Regions from separate parts of the Homo sapiens genome. Here region 1 is linked to region 2. Evidence: fine-mapped QTL for protein levels in blood plasma. A gene starts in region 2. The other region holds a variant in brackets. All regions are shown on one strand. Distances are from middle to middle. Region 1 overlaps NID2 (nidogen 2). Region 2 holds the start of NID2 (nidogen 2).

Region 1 (9,736 bases), 33 kb before region 2:
TACAGAATCTTCTATTAAAATGGAGAAATAACAACAGGAGAGAATCAGGTTCTTGTCTTATACTGAGCCTTCAATGAGGACATGACCCTGTTGTTCTCCATTGTAACAGATGCTGACTCAGGAACCTGGTCTATACTCTCAAGTTAACTTGGCAACCACAACCCCACTGCTATGGGGGGAGACTTGCCCAGAGTGACTCCTAATCTAGATCCCAAGTGCTGACTGCTGCAGCTGACCTCATAGACTGGACTCGCTCCCAAGTCCTTCAGGGTGTCTGGCATTCTCCCCCGTGCCTGCCCTACTGCCCACGTTATGGCTCTTCCAGTGCCCTGTCATAGCCTGCTGTGAGCTGGGATGCCTTGGCTGAGACAGCCTTGTTTTCTGGTAAACTCTTTCCATCCCACTTTATAAGAAACACCACAGTGCATTCTTGTAGTGGAATATTCCCGTATTATTGATTCCCGTATTATTGGCTGAAAATAAGGAGGGCTATGGGTTTATCCTCAGTTCACCACAATGTTGTCGGCTGGAGTAACAGAATCTTTGCCAAAACAAAGGACCAATAAATAATTCCAGCACTTTTTAAACCTGATGAACTATGTCAGCATAAGCCTAGCTCCCTGAAGCATGCAGACATCCTTGGAGGTCCGTTCCTCTGGATCTCTTGGCTGACAGGAAAGAGGCACCGCACTGGGGTTGTGGTTGCCGAGTTAACTTGAGCCTAGACCAGGTTCCTGAGTCAGTCCTCAATAGGTTATAACTAAGGACAAGGTCATGTCTTCATCCATTAGGACCCAATGTAAGACAAGAACGTGATCATCTCCCATCATTTCTCCATTTTAGGAAGATTCTGTACAAAATGCCTGGCATACCCCACCAAAGCAGGAAGTAATTGTCAACATGTTTTGATTTATAAATACTAATGCTTAGCCTTCTTATTCAGTACTTTCCAGCATCAAAATTTCACCATGGCACATTCCAGCAAAGATTAGTGTGTTCACATGGACATCAAGAGCTTACCACCCTGCTAGGCATTAAAAGAAAAAAAAAAAATCTCAGCTCAAAAGTTGACTTGCAAACTTGGACAGGATATATTATCCTACCTAAAATTGAGAAGAAAGTGTCCCTAATTACTCAATACTGATTTAAAATGTATGTCACTGACAGGATTAGTTCCATAATTTGCAATCCCCAGTGCAAAATGAAAATGTGGAGCCCATGGTTCAAAGCAAAGCGTTAAACCAAGCATGGGGCTCTTCTGAGCACAGGGCCCCATTCACTGAACTTGGCTTCCCAAAACATTTTTAAAATACATTTCTAAAACCATTTCACGACTCATTCTCTATGACTTGTAAGCTTTTCTCCTATTATAGTAAGTAAAGAACACAGTATCCTTCTTAAGACATTTTCTATTTCGCCCTCACCCTCTTAAACTGCCTGACTCTCTTAACAGAGGATCTGGAACTAATTTACTCATTTAATCAAGGGGAAGAGCGGTTTTCCTTAAAGGAACAGTCCCTTCAGCTTCACTGCACAGCCCTCTGCCCAGAGCCTCCTCAACTCGCCAAAAGGACCCGTGAAGTGGAAGGACAGGAAGCATTTTTGGATCGTGTTTTATGACCCCACAAAACAACCAACCAACCAACAACAACAAAAAACAGCTGACTCACACTTAAAGCTTAAAGCTCAAACAACTGGTGGGGGGTGGCACTGCTGGTTGAGAAGTCACCGAGGGACAGAGGCTCCAATTACTCACTGGGAAAGACACCCCAGTTCTGCATCCTCGCCCTGGGAAGTCGCACCACACCCACATCAGGTGTGGACAGCTGCGCTGTTTCACATGAATTCCAACAACTATCGTTCCCTCTGGAAAAACTGAGCAGTTCTTAGGAAGATACTGCTGTGTACCAAGAGGGGAAAGAAAAAACTTTTGGGTGTTTCTTTTTTGTTTTTCTTTTTTTCCCTCCTATTCAGGTAGAATGAACAGTACTGCTGTGTGTGGATGAAGTAGGGTTCAAACACAAAGGGTTTAAAAGACACACATTGCCTCTTTCAAAGTTTGGTCTAAATTATGAGGCAGTCATGAGGCCACTGTGGAACAGCAGAGCCATGAGGGGTAAGGGTGTGCGTACTGGAGCCAGTGCCTGAGTTTGAGTCCCAGCTCACCCAGGTCACTTACTATGACCAGGCAAATTACTTCATTTCTATACCTCAGTCTCATCATCTGTAAAATGGGATAACAAATAACCCCACCCCCACCCCACCATTGGGTAGAGGTCATTGTGGGGATTAAATGAGTTAATTCATGTAAGGTGCTTAGAACAGTACTTGGCACCAAGTAAACCATCCTTTGATATTATTATTTGACTGGGGTGGGAGGGAAAATCATAAAATTCTAAAGAAAACAAGCAACTTGGTACCTGCCAGTTTGCTTTCTCTGATCCTTTCTTACTCTCATTTGGTATGTCTCTAGGAAAAATATACCCAGAGACACATCTTTTTCCTAAATGGTTCCAGAATCTGAATGGGACTCCATAGCCTGGGAAATTTCACTAACAGTTGCTTTTACAGATCAGATGCCTACACCCAACACAGGGCTGACCTGGACATTTAAAGGTAAAGACCATTCTCCCCAGTAGGTTTAAATCTCTCTTTGAGAAATCTACTACAGCAATCTTTCCCTTTCTAATTTACATGTTCCTCTAAAATCAACTCACATTTTCATGTGTTCATTTGCTACCTTACAATCCAATATCTGGGCACCTAATGCCTACATTCCCAACCAAGTTTCTTAAAACCAAAGCACCTCGGGATTCTCATTACAAGTCACTTTCGCATCCTAGAAAAGAGTCTAGTCCTTGTACCTTAATCTTGTCATATTGCTGAAGCAACACTTCTTTATTGAGCCTGCTGAGGCTTAAGGAGCCCTCAGCTCCAATAACAAAGCACAGAACCGCGTATCACTTACAGATTCACCTCACTGAGGAGCTAACTCTGGGCTCAACAGTTTCAATACAGTGGCTGAATTGAGGAAGATGGTTTTTTTCTCCTGGTGTGGCTCTTACATTCTAGGGGAAAACATGACCTGGTTTTCAGAATTAAAATGTCCCCTTGATCTGACAAAGCCACTTCCCATCTGTAGAGTTCCCTGACTTCACAAGCTCATCCTCTGGCTTGCTTGAAACATTTTTTAATAATTAAGACCTTGCTTTTTAGGATGGTTTTACATTTAGAGAAAAATGGAGCAGAAAGTACGAGCTCCCATATCCCCCCACCCAAAATGTGCAGTTTCCCCTATTATCAACATTGTGCATTAGTGTGGTGCATTTGTTATCCCCAATCAATACTGACACATTATTAACTAATGCCCATAGTCTGCAGTAGGGCTCACTCTTGGTGTTGGACAGTTCTATAGACTGACAAACGCATAATGGCCTATAACCAACATTACAATATCATACAGAATAGTTTCACTGCCCTAAAAATCCCATGTTCCACCTATGCATCCTTCTCCTTCTTCCTCCTGAACCACTGGCAACCACTGATCTTTTTACTGTCTCTATAGTGTAACCTTTTCCAGAATGTCATGGTTAGAATGATTCTGTATGTAGCCTTTTCAGACTAGCTGCTTTCACAGAGCAACATGCTTTTAAGTTTCCTGCATGTCTTTCTGTGACATGATATGCCTAGAACATTTTAAAATCAGTCTTCACAGGTGAGGCTAATGGTCATTAAAATTTGAGAACCACTGCTTACTTTGAGACGGGGTCTTGTTATGTGGCCAACTCTGGCCTCAAACTCCTGGGCTCAGGTGATCCTCCCACCTCAGCCTCCAGAGTAGCTGGGATTACAGGTGTAAGCCACTGTACCCGATGAGAATGGTTTTAGAGTTTTGTTTCTACTACTATTTGCTTCCATTTATTTTTATTTTTTGAGACGGAGTCTCACTCTGTTGCACAGGCTGGAATGCGATGGCACAATCTTGGCTCACTGCAACCTCCGCCTCCTGGGTTCAATCAGTTCTCCTGTTTCAGCCTCCTGAGTAGCTGGGACTACAGACACATGCCACCACACCTGGCTAAATTTTTTTGTGTATATATATATATATATATATATGTTTTATTTTGTAGAGACAGGGTTTCACCATGTTGGCCAGGCTGGTCTTGAACTCCTGACCTCAGGTGATCCACCCACCTCAGCCTCCCAAAGTGCTGGGATTACAGGCATAAGCCAGTATGCCTGGCCTTCAGTTGAGAAGTAATTCACATACCATACAATTCATCCGTTTAAAGTACATAATTAAACAATTTCGTCTATTCAGTGTTATCCAACCGTCACCACAATCAATTTCAGAACATTTTCATCACCCCCAAAATTAACCCTGTACCCTTTAGCTATTAACGCCCTATGCTCTCATTATCTCTTAGCCCTGGGCAACCATGAATATGCTTTCTATGTATGTGGATTTGCCTATTTTGGATATTTCACATAATTGTAACCATTCAGTATGCTGTCCTTTGTCACTGACTACCTTCACTTAAGGTTTTCAGAGTTCATCCATGTTGCAGCATGTATCCGTACTTCATTCCTTTTTATGGTTGAATAATATTCCAGTATATGAATATATTTTTTGGTGTCCATCAACTGATGGGCATGTATGTTGCTTCCACCTTTTGGCTATTATGAATACTGCCACTATGAATATACACGAATAAGTTTTTGTGGGGATCTATGTTTTCATTTCTTTTGGGTATATAGAAAGGAGTAGAATTGCTCCATTAAATGGTAACTTTGTGTTTCACTTTGAGAAACCACTATTTTGTTTTTCACAGTAGCCACATCATTTTATAATCACACCAGCAACGTATGAGGGTTCCGAATTTTCCATGTTCTCGCCAACACTTGTTATTACCCGTTTTTTGATTATACTCGACCACATGATGTAAAGTAGTATCTCATTGTGGTTTTGATTTGCATTTCCCTGATGACTAATGATGCTGAGCATCTTTACACATGCCCATTGGGTATCTGTATATCTTTTTGGAGAGAGGTCCTTGCAGAGCTTTTGCCCATCTTTTAGTTAGCTTGTTTTTTTATTGAGTTGTAAGATACTTCGTATACTCTAGAACAAATATCACATGATTTAAAATACTGTCTCCCATTCTATGGCTGTGTTTTCACTTTGTTAATAATGTCCTCTGAAGCACAAACTGTTAAAATTTTGATGACACCCAGTTTATTTTGCTGTTGCTTGTGCTTTTAGTGTCGTACCTAAGAAACCATTAGCAAATTCAAAGTCACAAAAATTTACCCATATGTTTTCTTCTAAAAGTTTTAACTCTTACACTTAGGTCTGTTGGCCCATTTTGAGTTGGATATGCTGTGAGGTAAAAGGTTCAACTTCATTCTTTTGTATGTGGTCACTCAGTGGTCCCAGCACCATAGTTAACAATAGTTTAAAAGACTATTCTTTCTCCATTGAATTGTTTTGGCACTGTGTTTTTTGTTTTGTTTTGTCTTTTAACCATCAGAATTCTATTATTATTATACTTTAAGTTTTAGGGTACATGTTTACAACGTGCAGGTTTGTTACATATGTGTACATGTGCCATGTTGGTGAGCTGCACCCATTAACTCGTCATTTAGCATTAGGTATATCTCCTAATGCTATCCCTCCCCACTCCCGGCACTGTTGTTGAAAAAGCAATTGACTTTTAATGTGAGTATTTCTGGGTTCCCACTTCTGTTCCTTTGATCTTTACATGTATCCTTACGCCAGGACCACACTGTCTTGATTACTCTAGATTTCGAGTTTGAGAAATACAAGTCTGACTTTATTCTTTTCCAAGATTGTTTTGGCTATTCTGTGTTCTTTGAATTTCCATATAAATTCTAGAATCAGCTTGCCAATTTCTTCAAAGAGCCAGCTGAGATTCTGATAGGGATTATGTTGAATTAATAGATCAATTTGGGAAGTATTCACATCTTAACAGTATTAAGTCTTCCAATCCATGAATGTGGAACATCTTCCCATTTAACTGGGTCTTAAATTTTTTTCCAAAAATGTTTTGTGGGATGCAATGTACAAGTACTGCACTTCTTTTTAAAAATTTATCTCTTTTTGAAACAATTTCTTAATCTTTAGTTTGCTCATTGCTACTATAGAGAAATACAATTTGGTGTACTGATCTTGCATATCTTATAACATTGCGAACTTGTTCTTTAGTTCTAATAGTGTTTTAGTGAATTCCTGAGATTTTCTACACAAAATGTCATCTGAGACTAATTTTACTTTGTCCTTTTCCAATTTAGATGGCTTTTATTTTGTGTTCTTGCCTAATCACCCTGGCTAGAAATTCTAGTACTGAATTGAATAAAAGTGGCAACAGCAGACATCCTTGTCTTGTTCCTAAGCTTCAGGGAAAAGCATCCAGTCTTTCACCATTAAGTATAATGTTCTGGGAATCATGGAGGGGGAGGTTATACATCAAGTTCTATGATGTTTGGTTTTTCCAGATACTAGCTCTTTGCTCCACCTTAGTTTTGGATGAAATTCTTCTCATCTGTTTTAGCTAAAATGTCACTTTCTTGGGGACATCTTTTCTGAATCTTCAAACTAGACTCACAGTGCCCTGCTCTCATCACACTTGTAACAAATACTTGTCAGCATCACTCTCCCTCCTAATTCCAGTCTGCCTTGTTCACAGGTATATTCCTGATTGGCACGCACAGTTGGGTATTGCTATAAACCAGCTTCACATACTATGCTCTATTTCCTGACTTTGGCAGGGACACTGTTCCCTGCCCTAAAACTCTTTTCTGCCTCTGTTTCCAACTCAAGGGCAAGGATCTGCTCTATTCATCCTTATACCTAGCACATAACACAGCATGGCACTAGGTAACCCTTAGTAACCTCTGTGAATCATTCTAACTCTACTTAAAAGGATGTCATTTTTACCCAACAACAAAAAAGGAAACCTTACCTTTGACCGGGCCAATTTGATTGGTCACAGCAAATCTAAGCACTCTTTCTTCGTCATTATACAAGGCAAAGACCCGGTCCACGTTCAGCTGCTGGGTGGTGGGGAAGGACGGGTGTCTGGGGGCGTGCCTGCACACCTGGTAAGTGATGTTCTGGTGGATGCGGTAGGACCATGTTTGGTTGATTGCACCAAAAGTCAGAGAGTAGTCTCTGGAACTTGTAGAGGTCACAGCTGCAACAAACACAGTGGTAATTTTTTAAAAATATTAAATACAGAGATTTTCATGTGAGGTGGATTTTTCTGCAGTTTTTTTCATCTAATTCTTGGAGTGTGTTCCCTTGGGAACCTCCTGAGTTTATATGAAAAAATGTGTAAGGAAATCCCAAAAACCTGAGTGGATGCAAAGCCACAGTGCTGAGAGGGAGAAGGCACTACAATTGTCCATGTTATTATACACAAAGAATAAGTGTTACTAAGGGCCAGCCATGCCAACAGTGCTCTCTACATACTGCCTCATTTATTCCTCACAACAGCCTGGTGAGGTGGGCACTAAATCATGTGATCAGAGGCTCACAAAGGTTAAGTAGCCTAAGATGCAATGCTGCCACATGGTAGAGCTGGAACTGAAACTCACATTGGTTTGACTCTACACCCTAAATTTTAAACCAATCCATCTTCTACATTTCACAGAAGTGACGACTTCCAACACCTCGCACTTCAGTAAATCTGAAGGATTCCAGAGAAGGGAAAGGGTTGTCTCTCACCATCTGAGTCTAGGAGTCAAGCTCAGGTCAGTGATCCGGACACTGACCATTTTGTTCACAGCCCAGGTCTCTGCTTCCCCTTGTCTTCCCTACATCTCCTGCCAGGCTGCCAGCTCTCAGCATAGGAGCAGCAGGGGTCAGAGGAAAGGCACAACTCAATCCGGATTGCTGTGCTGCACAACAGCAGCTGTGATGGAGGCAGCATCCTGTGCGCAGGTAGTACTTTCACAGAACACATCACGCTTCGCACACATTGATCACATAATATAGAAAAAGCATTTTTAGTTCCATGTGAAAGATGAGAAAATACATTCTCAGATATTAAGAGGCCTTTCCCTATAGATATTAAATGGCAAGTCCAGGATATAAATTCTTATCTTTTGACTCCAAATCTAGCATTAGTTTTATAATAAATTATAGCATCTCTGTGTTTTTTGGTTTTGTTTTTGAGATGGAGTCTTGCTTTGTCGCCCAGGCTGGAGTACAATGGCACAATCTCGGCTCACTGCAACCTCCACTTCCCAGGTTCAGATGATTCTCCTGCCTCAGCCTCCCAAGTAGCTGGGATCGCAGGAGCGTGCCACCACACCCTGCTAATTTTTGTATTTTTAGTAGAAACAGGTTTTCACCATGTTGGCCAGGCTGGTCTTGAACTCCTGACCTCAGGTGATCCACCCACCTTGGCCTCCCAAAGTGGTGGGATTACAGGCATGAGCCATTGCACCTGGCCTCTTTCTGTGATTTTTTTTTTTTTTAAAGCAGCCTGAACTCATCAGCTGAAACAAGGTTGAGATAAATATAAATTCCAATAATCACTATTTTTCCATGTTGCAGAAAGTAGGATGGTTAAAAACTGTATATAATTATACCATCCCTACCCACCCCATGGACAATGTTGCTATTGATTTTATTATTTGAAAATACTATGTAGGGATATAGATATTCTTATGTATAGCAGCCATTCTGCTCACTTACACGATATATTTCATGGTAACAATAAGAGTAATAACATAATAGAGCTCATTTTATGTTCCATGCACTGTTCTAAGGACATGCCATGTAAGTCATTTAAGCCTTGTATCTATCTTGTGAGATGGGCATAATCCCCATTTTACAGATGTGAAGACTGGTTATACATACTGGAGTCGGAGTAGTGGTACAGCTCCTTGTAGGGAGAGATGTGGGCTGTGAAATTTGCTGAGACGTAAGGCACCTGGCCTTGAATGTTGGTCTTAATGCTCAGGTAGTTCTCTGGGTCAAGT[C/A]CCTCAGCAGTTTGAGTGATACGAACCGTCTCCTCTCCCGGGTAGAATGTAACTTCCATGTCATGGGTAAAGGCAGCACCTGGAGATGAAAAACATTCAGCACAGGGATGAAAAGAGGTCTTGCTTAAACAGTTACCAGTATATACTGCCCGCTCCCAATTTCTACTGCTGTTGGAGATCGTGCCTAAGGAGATTATCTGATATCTGAGAGTAAGCACTATCAGCTGTTGATTCCATAAGTTCCCAAACTTTTCCATTGAAGAATATGGTTTCATCCTGCCTTACCTCACCCAGCTTCTCTTTGAACAAGCTTGTATTCTGTGAGAAATACTCTTGGGAACGTCCTTGACTTTTCTCTAAGGTTGCTAGACTTAGCAAAAAACAAACAAACAAATAAACCTAACAACAAAAAAACAAAAACAAATAAACTACCACCTAAGACATTCAGGGTTTTGTTTGAATTTCAGATAAGTATGTCTCATGAAATATGTGGGTAATACTTATACTAGAAAATTGTTTATCTGAAATACAAATTTATCCAGGTGTGCCATTTTTTATCTACTTTTGACCCAAGGGCTTTATTCAAATTTTGATTAAAGCAAGAACCTATTAACAGCTACCGAGCTCTGCAGTTAAAGATGGAGAAAGAACTTCTCACAAAACTATTTTTAATGCAATAAAGATAAAACCTCTAGCAAACAAGTTTTCAGGTTGGAAGGTGAGAATC
Region 2 (10,642 bases):
CCCCACCTCTCAATACTGTCACATTGAGGATTAAGTTTCAACATGATTTTCAGAGGGGACAAATATTCAACCATAGCGGGCAACCTTGCACTCATCTGTCTTATGTTACTGCCTGTGACTCCTTCATCCATTTCTCTGGCCCCTTTGCTAATAGGTTGCTCTCTCAACCTTCTCCTGGGTCATGTTTTTGCTCAGAACAATCTCTCTTGATACCTCATTCTCAATATCCATTCTTTTTAGCCCTTTCAACCTGACTTAAATTCCAGATAAACAAAACATTCCCCACATTACAGAGATCTATATAACTCAGCTGTCTCTAACCCCATCCCTAAAATGACAAAAACAAAACACTCCTCTTTCCCCACAAAAAGCACAGCTAAACATTAGTCCTCTATGTCTCCCATCAATAAGTATTTCAAAGGTCTACACCATAACTTTTTTGCTCTGTGAACTACCTATGAGAGTTCAAGAAATCTCAGATTAACTGAATTGACAAACACTATTTGTTCACATTTTTTTTTCAGATACAATTACACCTTGACATTCCTGCAATATCAGGTGCAACATCTGGTCACACCTGACAGGAATATCCATGGAGAAAAAGGGCACCAACTGCAATTGTTTTTAATGGCAAAGATGCCATTGCTTTGAATCTTCCAGTTTCCAGTAACTTTGCAATATAAAGTTAGTAAGCCAAACTTTAAGAACGCCATGTAGAACTCAGTCCTTCAAGCAAATTAGATTACTGTTTGCCAAAGTCTATCTCCAAAGAACTATTAAAACAAGAACTCAAGTCCCAGAGCTCTTTAAAATATTGGAAGAAACTTCAATGTGGGTAATTGAAAGAACATCCCCTATCCAAACAGAATCCTCCTTTCTTTTTTTTTTTTTTTCCCCTTTCTTTTTTATTTATTTATTTATTTATTTATTTATTTTTTATTATACTCTAAGTTTTAGGGTACATGTGCACATTGTGCAGGTTAGTTACATATGTATACATGTGCCATGCTGGTGCGCTGCACCCACTAACGTGTCATCTAGCATTAGGTATATCTCCCAATGCTATCCCTCCCCCCTCCCCCAACCCCACCACAGTCCCCAGAGTGTGATATTCCCCTTCCTGTGTCCATGTGATCTCATTGTTCAATTCCCACCTATGAGTGAGAATATGCAGTGTTTGGTTTTTTGTTCTTGCGATAGTTTACTGAGAATGATGGTTTCCAATTTCATCCATGTCCCTACAAAGGACATGAACTCATCATTTTTTAAGGCTGCATAGTATTCCATGGTGTATATGTGCCACATTTTCTTAATCCAGTCTATCATTGTTGGACATTTGGGTTGGTTCCAAGTCTTTGCTATTGTGAATAGTGCCGCAATAAACATACGTGTGCATGTGTCTTTATAGCAGCATGATTTATAGTCCTTTGGGTATATACCCAGTAATGGGATGGCTGGGTCAAATGGTATTTCTAGTTTTCTTAATGAAACATTCTGAAGCCAACTAGCAAATGGTAATGTCTGCAGGTGGATTTTAATTAGAAAAGTAAAAGAGAGATGGAATTTACAAATCTCTTCTACCCTAAACCTCCCCCACCCCAGAAAAGGACCAGACAAAAGTTTTAATTCCAAAAACCTTGCATTTAAAGAGTCCTTATGCAACATAGAGAGTAACAGGATGGTTACCAGAGGCTGGGAAGGGTAGTAGGGGTCAGGGGAAGGTGGACACAGTTAACGGGTACCAAAAAAAAAAAAATAGAAGGAATGAATAAGACCTACCATTTGATAGCACAACAGGGTGACTATAACCTGTGATAACAGGTTATTATAGTCAATAATAACTTAATTGTACATTTTTAAATAACTAAGAGTGTAATTAGATTGTGTGTAATACAAAGGATAAATGCTTGGGGGGATGGATACCCCATTCTCCAAGATGTGATTATTACGTATTGCATGCCTGTACCAAAACATCCCATGTACCCCATAAATATATACACCTACTATGTACCCTCAAAAATTAAAAAATAAAGAGTCCCCATACAAAAGATATAAGTCACAGCATCCTTACAAGATAGAGATCAGTGACATGGGCAAGCAACCTCACCTCTTACAGGGGGCATGTACCATCCTTCTATAGTGAAGAAGCATTTCCGTAAGTTAAAATTGAGATGAATCATATGGTTTCAGCCCCTAGAGTATGGTATTTTAGATTCAGGTCTAATTCCATAGAAGGAAGCCCTTACTTTCTTCAGGAATGAGGCAGTTTGCCATTTACCAAGCACGCTGGCCCCACTCATATCCATTTGGAGGACTTCAAATGTTGATGACAAGACTAAAGACCAGGAGCCTGGAATTTTTTACTTTCCGCAGGTAGAGACTGTAAAGCACATTGACGGCAGACTCCTATAAACTAAGAAACTTGTAAACTGGTACCTGGAAGGCAATTAGGCAGAAGTTATCAAGAACTTTATCAAAAGTGCATCCTCTCTGACCTACCAATTGCACTTCCTGGAATGTCAACTAAGAACATGTGCAAAGATTTAGCTTTTTAAAAAGTGATTCACGCTATTATTTATAATAATGAAAAACCAGAAAAAGCCTTAATGGCCCAACACTGGTTGAGCATACTGTGGTACACCCACTATTATACAGGATAATAGCAGGATACAGTAGTATGCATCATTATAAATGATGTAGAAATACATTTATTGACATTGAAACATATTTACAATACACTATTCTGTGAAAAAAGCAAGTTATAAAACAGTATGTGCAGTGTAAACTCATCATTGTTAATAGACAGCAATAAAGATATGCAGAAGAAAAAACTCTGAAAATGTACGCAGAAAAATGTTTATCAGTGGTGGGAAAATGAGTGGTTGTTTTCTTTTTTAAAATTATCTGTATTTTCTGATTTTTTCCCCTTCAATGAACATATAATTAGAAATACTTGTATACTTAGAGATGGTTCTAAAAATAAGCAACCAAACAGTAAATTGCCTTATGTTCAAAGGGGCTCCCACATCTGCACTCCCGCTCTCATATCCGCTAAGCATTTTTTTCCTCAAGGGAGTGACCACCTGCCAGGGCCTCAGAAGATGCCTAGAGACAACGTCTTTCCTCACTCCCAAGCCACTCCAGCCCTGCTGCCTCCAAGGTCAGGTTCAGCGCAAGAGTAGGCTCAGAAACAACTCCGAGCCAGTCCCTGGGTCGCTGCCCCAGAATTTAAGCCCATCCTTCAATTTCCTCAGCAGTCAAATATCCCTGGTCACTTACCTCTCCCGAGGGCAGCGCCCCGCGCTTGACCTCCTCGTAAGCGCCTACCTGCTCCCAGGTGGCCAGGAAGGCGTGGGTGGGGGTAAAGCGCGCAGAGCGCGGGAAGCCAGCGCGCACATAGCGGGCGGCCAGGCCCAGCACTGCGGGGGAGGTGTCCTCTCGGTACAGGACTCGGCCTCTGCCGTGGCTCGTGTCGATGTCCGCCAGAAAAGGGGCGATGGCCGGGAAGTCGGTGGGGAAATCATAGTCCACATACTGCGTTTCCCTGGGGAAGTCCTGAGTGGAGATGATGCCGTTGGTGCCCACCTGGGAGAGGAGAGGGACAAAAAGGTGACAGTCGCTCAAGCCCAAGGACGCTACCCTTTCGCGCAGGGAGGGAAGGGAACTGACTTAGGCAAAAAGCCTCTCTCTCCTTCCCCACTGGCCAGGGAGTCTGGATTCAGGGAAACAAGCGCAACTTTTGCGACTGTCCCAGCTCCGCGCTGCAGTAGGTCCAGGGGCCCTAAAACTCGTTCACCTATCTTCTCACTCCCCTCACAACCCCGGAGCCCCATGTCCTCGGAGAGGAAGCCTCCAGGTCTGAAGAGGGAACACCCCAGCTCCGCAGACGGGCACAGCCTTCTCGCGGTCCTAACTGCAAAGCCCGCTGGCCGCCCTAGCAACGCCACCTTTTCTGCCTGGGACGCGTACGTGGCTGCGAACAATTCTTGCTCTCCCCTCCAGGTCATTCTTGCTCCCCTACAGCAGCGGGGCAGGCAGCGGCATCGCTCTCTGGCCGGGTACCACCGCAAGGGTGCTGGGGGGCTCCAGGAGTGGGGTCTGTTTCCTCCCCTCTGGAGGCAGGGTTTCCGTGAGACCGACCCCAGGGAAGAAGCTGCGGGAAAAGTGCCAGGAGGGGGCTGAACTTACGTAGAGGTTGCTGAATCGGGCTTCGTAGAAGTGCAGGGGATTCGCCAGCTTCACCACGGCTGAGCTTTCGTCGTCGCCTTCCTGCAGGAGCTGGTCCCCCCACGACTCCCCGTGTGGGAAGAGCTCGTCTGGGTGCAGCGCCGCGGCCCGCAACATTAGCAACGGCAGCAGCAGTAGCACTGGTAACGACGACAGCACCGGCCGCCCGGCCACCCGGTCCCCCTCCATGCTCGCTCGGCCGTGCGCTTACCCGCTGCACAACGCGTCCCGCCCCGGCCTCCAGCCCACTCTCCGCGCCGCGCCAGCCTCGAACCTGGATCTCCGCGGGCGCCTGGGCGGGGCGGGACTCCAGGCCCACCCAGCAAGCTAATTGGCTGAGGCCCTCGGCTGGGGACCAATCACCGGCTCTGAGAAAGTTCGGCAGTGGCCACCACATCTGGTTCTCGTTAACTTTTCTAAGGCAGCGGCCGCTGGAGCAGCGGGGCTGGCGGGGTAAAAGCTCCTGGCCAGGGCTGCCTGGAGCTGCCCCTTCCACTCCGCCCCCAGGGAGCTCCCGGGTCATCCTCTCATCCGGGCTGCCCCGCGGCCCCCAAGGAGCCCCACCCCCGGGACCAAATGGCCCGCAAGGTTTGGGGCAGCGGCGTTGCAGGAGATGAGCTCAGCGCAAAGGGAACCCCGCAGCGGCGAGTGCGGCTGCTGGCCTGCGCGCTGTGGCCCCAACAGGCTGGCAGGGCGCGGGCGGGTGGCGGGGTTGCGGTATGAGCTTTGCTCCCTGCCCTGGGGTCCCGGGCGCTCCTGGCTCTGGAGGCCTGGCCATCGGTCCGAAAAGCAAAGGGACATTGTCGTGGTCCCCTCGGCCGCTTCGCTCCACCCAGAGACGCCCTGAGGAGAAGCGAGCCTTTGTACGAAGGCAGAGGGCTGACTCCTAAGTTCTGTCCCCCTCCCGAAGGCCGGCCGCTAGGGAAGACTTGGCCACCCTCTGGAAGTACCTTCCCCCGGGAAAACCGCAGCAGGAAAGACCATGAAATACTACTGTGTGTGATCCGCTCCGTTTGGGGAGTAGGATGAGGCATCCCGCTTGGTTACCAGGCAGAAAGGGGCGAGTCGCGGGGATGGGAAGACCCTGATCTCTTGCCCATTGCTGCGGCCGTCGGAGATGCCCTCCCCCGCGGCCACGGAGGCGGTAACCTGAGCTGCTCCGCAGGACTGGAAACCGCACAACCTCGAAACCAGCTGCGCAGGAGAAGGGGAACCCCATCCACCATAAACATCCCCTCTGCGAAGCCTCAGGAGCTGGAGGAGATTTTATTACCATTTTTATTATCAAGAGCTTAAAATTTCCCAGACAGTCTGTTTTCTCTCCCAGGCCCCCCATGAGGTCCTTAAAAGCAAAGATATTTAAAAAGAACGAAAGAAAGAAAAAAACCAAAAAGCAAATCCTTGGAAATGCCTTAAAGGACTCTCCAGAGACACACTGCTCTTTGTAGGTGTTTATTCCTATGGGCCCACTGGACCAAACGCTAAAAAACGTGAAGACATCAGACTGTGAGACTCATAGAGCAGACACAAAATGGAAAACTGGCCCAAAGCAGTTTGCTTCCTCAGAGTGGAGAGTTGTATATTTGATGTTCCAAAAATATATTTATGCTTGCACATATATTTTCTCATTCTTTCTGGGGTCAGGTATTTTTATTTTACTGAGGATGAAATGAAAGTTCAAAGACAGATGACTTGACTTGCCCAACATCATCTGAAGTTACTCCCTGATATAAAACTACTGGCCCTCTGTAGTTTTACTTTATCTCTCGATTCAGCATAATAATAATAACTAACATTTATTTAGTGGTACTAAGCTATGAGCTTTGGGGCAAGCAAACACTGAGATGGTCTCCAATGATCCCCATTTCCTGGTGTTCATTCCCCTGTATAATCTCTGCCCTGGGAGTGTGGACTGGCCTTGTGATTTCTAACAAACATAGTGTGGCAAGAGTGATGAGAAGAAGGCTAAATAAGATTGTGGCTTCTTCCTTGTTAGTTGACTTTCCCTCTCATTGATTTTGATGAAGCAAGCTGTTATGTCGGGGAGGCCCACATAGCAAGGAACTGAGGAGGGCAGCCTCTGGCCAACAGTCAGCAAGGAACTGAATTCTGCCAACAACCATGTCAGTGAGCTTGGAAACGGATCCTTCCCCAGTTGGGTCTTGAGATGGTATCTCAGCGCTGGCTGACATTTGATTGCAGCCTTGCAAGAGACCCTGAAGCAGAGGACCCAGCTAAGCCAGGTGCAGATTCCAGACCCACCAAAACTGAGAATTATAGTTTTGGTTAGATTATAATTATAGTTTTGGTGGGATTCCAGACCAACCAAAACTGAGAATTACAGCTTCAGCTTCAGAAGCTGAAGAAGCTGTGTGTTGCTTTAAGCTATTACATTTTGGGATAATTTGTTATGCAGCAATAGACAACTGATAACAGGTAGTCGTTGTGTTAAGGAAACTAAAGCTCAGATGGGATTTTAAAAAAATCAGTTATTATCACATGGCTGGTAAGTACCAAAGCTGAGATTTGAACCCAATTCTGTCTGATCTCTAAACCTCCACTCCTAACCACTAAATTATATTGCAGCAAGGCCCTTTGGAAAGTAGCTCTAGTTTATGTCTCTAACTTTATCTCCCGTCACAGCCACCCTGAAGTCTCACCTGAAGCTGAGACTTTAATTCTCCAATACAACATCCTCACAGGTAAGTCCTTTTACCTACAGTAAAAGGTCAATTTCTTGGTCAATTTCAAGCCAACACCTTCTCATCTTTAAGGCTTGAATCAAAACCCTCCTCCTTCAGGAATCTGGGAAGAGAAAAGAATTCCCCACATCTTTTGCAAAAATCTCATTAATAATCCACCCCATTTAGCTTATAATCAATAAATAACCATAAGTATAATCAGTCAAGCAGCCGACGCCACTGCTCTGCCTATTCTTTTGTTTCTTTACTTATCTAATAAAGTCACTTTCACTTTACTTTGTAGACTCACTCCAAATTCTTTCTTGCACCAGATCCAGGAGCCCTCTCTTAGGGTCTGGATCAGGAACTCTTTCCAGTAACACTACTGCCCCCTTTTGAGCTATGTATTCATCCTTGAAACTGCTTGCTATTGCCACAAGTAACTATACATTAACCTAATAATGTCACACTGGACACTATCACTCATAGCCTATAGCTTAACAGTGCATAGCCAATCAGTGAGCAATGTTGTTTCTGTAAACCAATGTGAATTCCTTACAAACAATTTCATATCGGCCTACTCCCTGTCCCCCTTTTCTGCCTGTAAAAAACCTGCTTGTAATAAAGGCGGCATGAAGCTCATATCCAGGGTTACTTGGGTCTAAGTCTTCCGGGCAACTGTCCTCACTTTGGCTCAAGTAAATGTTTTGTTATATTTTGTGCCTCTGTCTTTTCCTTTCAGGTGGACGAAGCTTTCCTGGAATCCACAGTCTGATTTAGAAGCCCTTTCTCCTTGCTTCCATGTGCCCTGTGCTTGCCGTGATCATACCTCCTATCACACATCTCTCCCATAATCCTGATCTCCACATGCTTCCCTTACCACCACCACCACCACCACCACCACCACACCTGGAGGGCAGGGATTTTGCCTTCTTCAGTGTCTGCCGCAATGCCTGCCTGGCTCACTTGAAGTGTAAGAAATGTTTGTTGAATGAGTGAAGACAAGCAAGCCAGCCTGGGACTAGGACCCATGTCTGCTGGCTCAGAATGCAACATTCTTTCCCCTACACCACCTTTCCTGCTAATCTGACCTGACTCTTGTAATCCTCTTTACCAGGCTGCCTAGCAACTCACCTACCACTGCTCTCCCATTTTTGTCATTCTTTCATTCATTCATCCATTCAACAACAATTTCCTGAAAGTACACCATGACAAACACAACTCTGCAAGAAATAAAGGAGTACAAAATGTGGCCCCTGACCTTAAAGAGCTCATGATCTGGTTGGGGAAACAGAGCATAAGAGGATGTCACTAGTTTTGAATCTGATGCAATCTGAGTACAAAAAAATAGTTCCAATAGAGAAGATGCTAAAACGAACAGTTTTGTTTTCCTGTCTGCATAAAGTGGCTGAATTCTCCCTGAAATAGGAGGCTTTGGACAGCTGTGCTTAAGAGAACATGCCTTTGAGCTTTTATTCTGATATTATTTTTAAAAGACGCTATGGCACCAAGAGTGGTTTCTTCTTTAAAATGTCATTTTGTGTCTTGGGGAAAAAGAAAAAAATCTGCCGTGGCTCTTTCACCAGTCAAAGTAAATACTGAAGAAATACTTTGCTTGTATCCACAGCTCTCTTTGCAAGAGTAGAATTTCCATGACCTGCCAGACTGGCTGAAGAGGCAAAGGCCCCTTTCAGGCTGGGGGTTATAGAGGACGTCTGTAGCAGTTTTTACCCTTCTTGGATTGGATCCTCAGGGTACATCACAGCATTGCTTGAAAAGTAAGATTATTTAGATACAGGGCTTTTCATCAAGCCAAGGATGCTACCAGATGCCTTGCCAATAGACCTTATCAAGAGTCTCCACAGTTACATATTTTTTGTGGTTATATTGTTGTTATAAATACCAAGACTTCAAGAATGATGATACTTCCTGTTATTTTAATCATGAGAATGGAAGCATATTTGCTCCACAGTGTGGCAAATGGATGTTGGTATTTAAGAGCAAGTTCTATGTATAGCACCGATGGGTGTGTGTACATGTTTGTATTGGAGGTGGGCTTGGCAGGAAATGTCCCAGTTCTTGTTGCACACAGTGATTCTTTGCATAATTTTACTATCCATTAAATTCCAGGGTGTGTGTGCTAGCATGTAGAGAAAATAGACTCGAACAAGTTAGTATGTCTTCACAGACTCAGGCTTAATTGAAAGTAGGTTAGGCCTAAGGAGAACCATGAAGTGAGAAAGTATTTAAATTAAAATGTGCAATATGAAAAGACTGTTCAAGCTTTTGATATGAATCACTGCAGATGCAATTCTGCTGTGACATTTTTAAGTAGAGAGAGGGTTGGTGTGGCAGACACTATTGGAACCTCTCCCAACAGCCATCCCCTCTTTTTTTTTTTTTTTTTTTTTTTTTTTTGGTTTTAGAAACCCCATATTGTTCAGGTAAAGGGTGCAATAAGCCCGGGAATGATGGGTTGCTTCCTCAGCCCTGGCAGATGCCCTAAGATTGGTGGAAGCCAATCATGATTAAGCCTTTCACCCTTATAGTGATACAGTCTCCTGTAACTTCAACCCTTCCCTCCCTGTTGGCCTCTTCCCCTCTGCCTCTAAATCCCCTCTGCCCAGTCTTACCCATAAAAATAAAAAACAAATTTCCCTACTTATTTGTTGCCTTAGTTTTATTTCTCTTACTTTCAAAAACTCTACTGGAAAGGAATTTATACTTCCTGCCTCCTTCTTTCCACTGCAAAAATAATCTTCCCAACCCCATCACTGAACTGCTCAGGGAAAGACCAACAGCAAAATCATATTACCAAACCCTATAGGTAGTTTTTGTTTTTATCTTACTGGGCCTTTTTGTTTCTGATCCTACTGACCACTCATTTCTAGAAATTCTCTACTCCCTTGACTTTTCCAGCCATTTTGTTGTAGTATCTCCTGTGAATTTCTCATGCTCTGCTTCCGATGTCTAAATGTATGGCATGACCATGGCCTACTGCTCTTCTCATGTCATGCTGTCCTGGAGTGTCTTGACTCCTCTGATGGCCCAGCTTCCCACCTATATTCTAATGACTCTCAAATATATCCCCAGGCCTGAGCCTTCACTTAAGTTTAGAACTAACATCCAGCTCCCTGCTGAACATCTCCCCGAGACAATACCTAAGTCTTCATCTAGCATAACTAGATTCAATACTCAGTATTTCTGAGTTTTCCATTTTAGTCCATGGCAACAATATTTGCCCTTTCTCGATTACCATTGGCCTATCTCAGGTCCTCACCAACTGTCACCTGCTAGCTTTTGTGGCAGAAATGATAGGTTCATTTCTTCAACCCTTATTTCCAACCTCCTTCTCCCTGGCCCCCATCACTATAGAAGTAAGATTATTACTTTCTCAGTCTCTCTTGCAGCCAAAGGTGGCCATTTGGTATAGTCCTGTTCTAACTTCCAGACATCTCATGAAAGTCTGGGGGTTTCTGGAAAGGTTTTGTGTTGGTGATTTAAGGGAATAGTTGTATCTTTCCCCATTCTTGCTACCTTAAACATGGAGGTGATGTTTTGAGCTTGGCCAGCCATCTTCTCACTGTGAGGTACAACAATGAGGACAAAAGCATGGCCAAGCAAAAACACAGAGGGGAGCTGAGTATCTAAGCCAGTCAGTACCTGCCTTCACCATATTCCTTGGCATGTGAGCAAACAGATCCCTATAAGCTGAGTCCACTGTTGCATGCAGC

What was found. PIP is the posterior inclusion probability: the model's chance that the variant is causal. Protein levels are from antibody-based Olink assays in UK Biobank. Linkage for the fine-mapping came from a reference panel and not from the study's own genotypes, which makes the PIPs less certain.
Region 1: its variant is fine-mapped to the plasma level of the NID2 protein (UK Biobank, PIP above 0.99). The variant lies in the coding sequence of NID2. If it changes the protein, the assay may bind it differently, which can mimic a change of level.

Annotation. Positions count from the first base shown.
Region 1 is chr14:52,031,764-52,041,499 of GRCh38, forward strand. It overlaps NID2 (nidogen 2), which reads right to left. Exons shown (of 22, transcript NM_007361.4): 8 at 8,888-9,088; 9 at 6,984-7,214. Among named protein-coding and RNA genes, the nearest start is that of NID2, 32 kb to the right of the region's middle. The variant C/A (reference allele first, on the strand shown) is at 9,010.
Region 2 is chr14:52,064,579-52,075,220 of GRCh38, forward strand. NID2 (nidogen 2) reads right to left here and starts at 4,481. Exons shown (of 22, transcript NM_007361.4): 1 at 4,189-4,481; 2 at 3,280-3,585. The coding sequence starts at 4,416. LOC105378180 (a long non-coding RNA gene) reads left to right here and starts at 4,658. Exons shown (of 2, transcript XR_943864.4): 1 at 4,658-6,929; 2 at 7,651-9,569.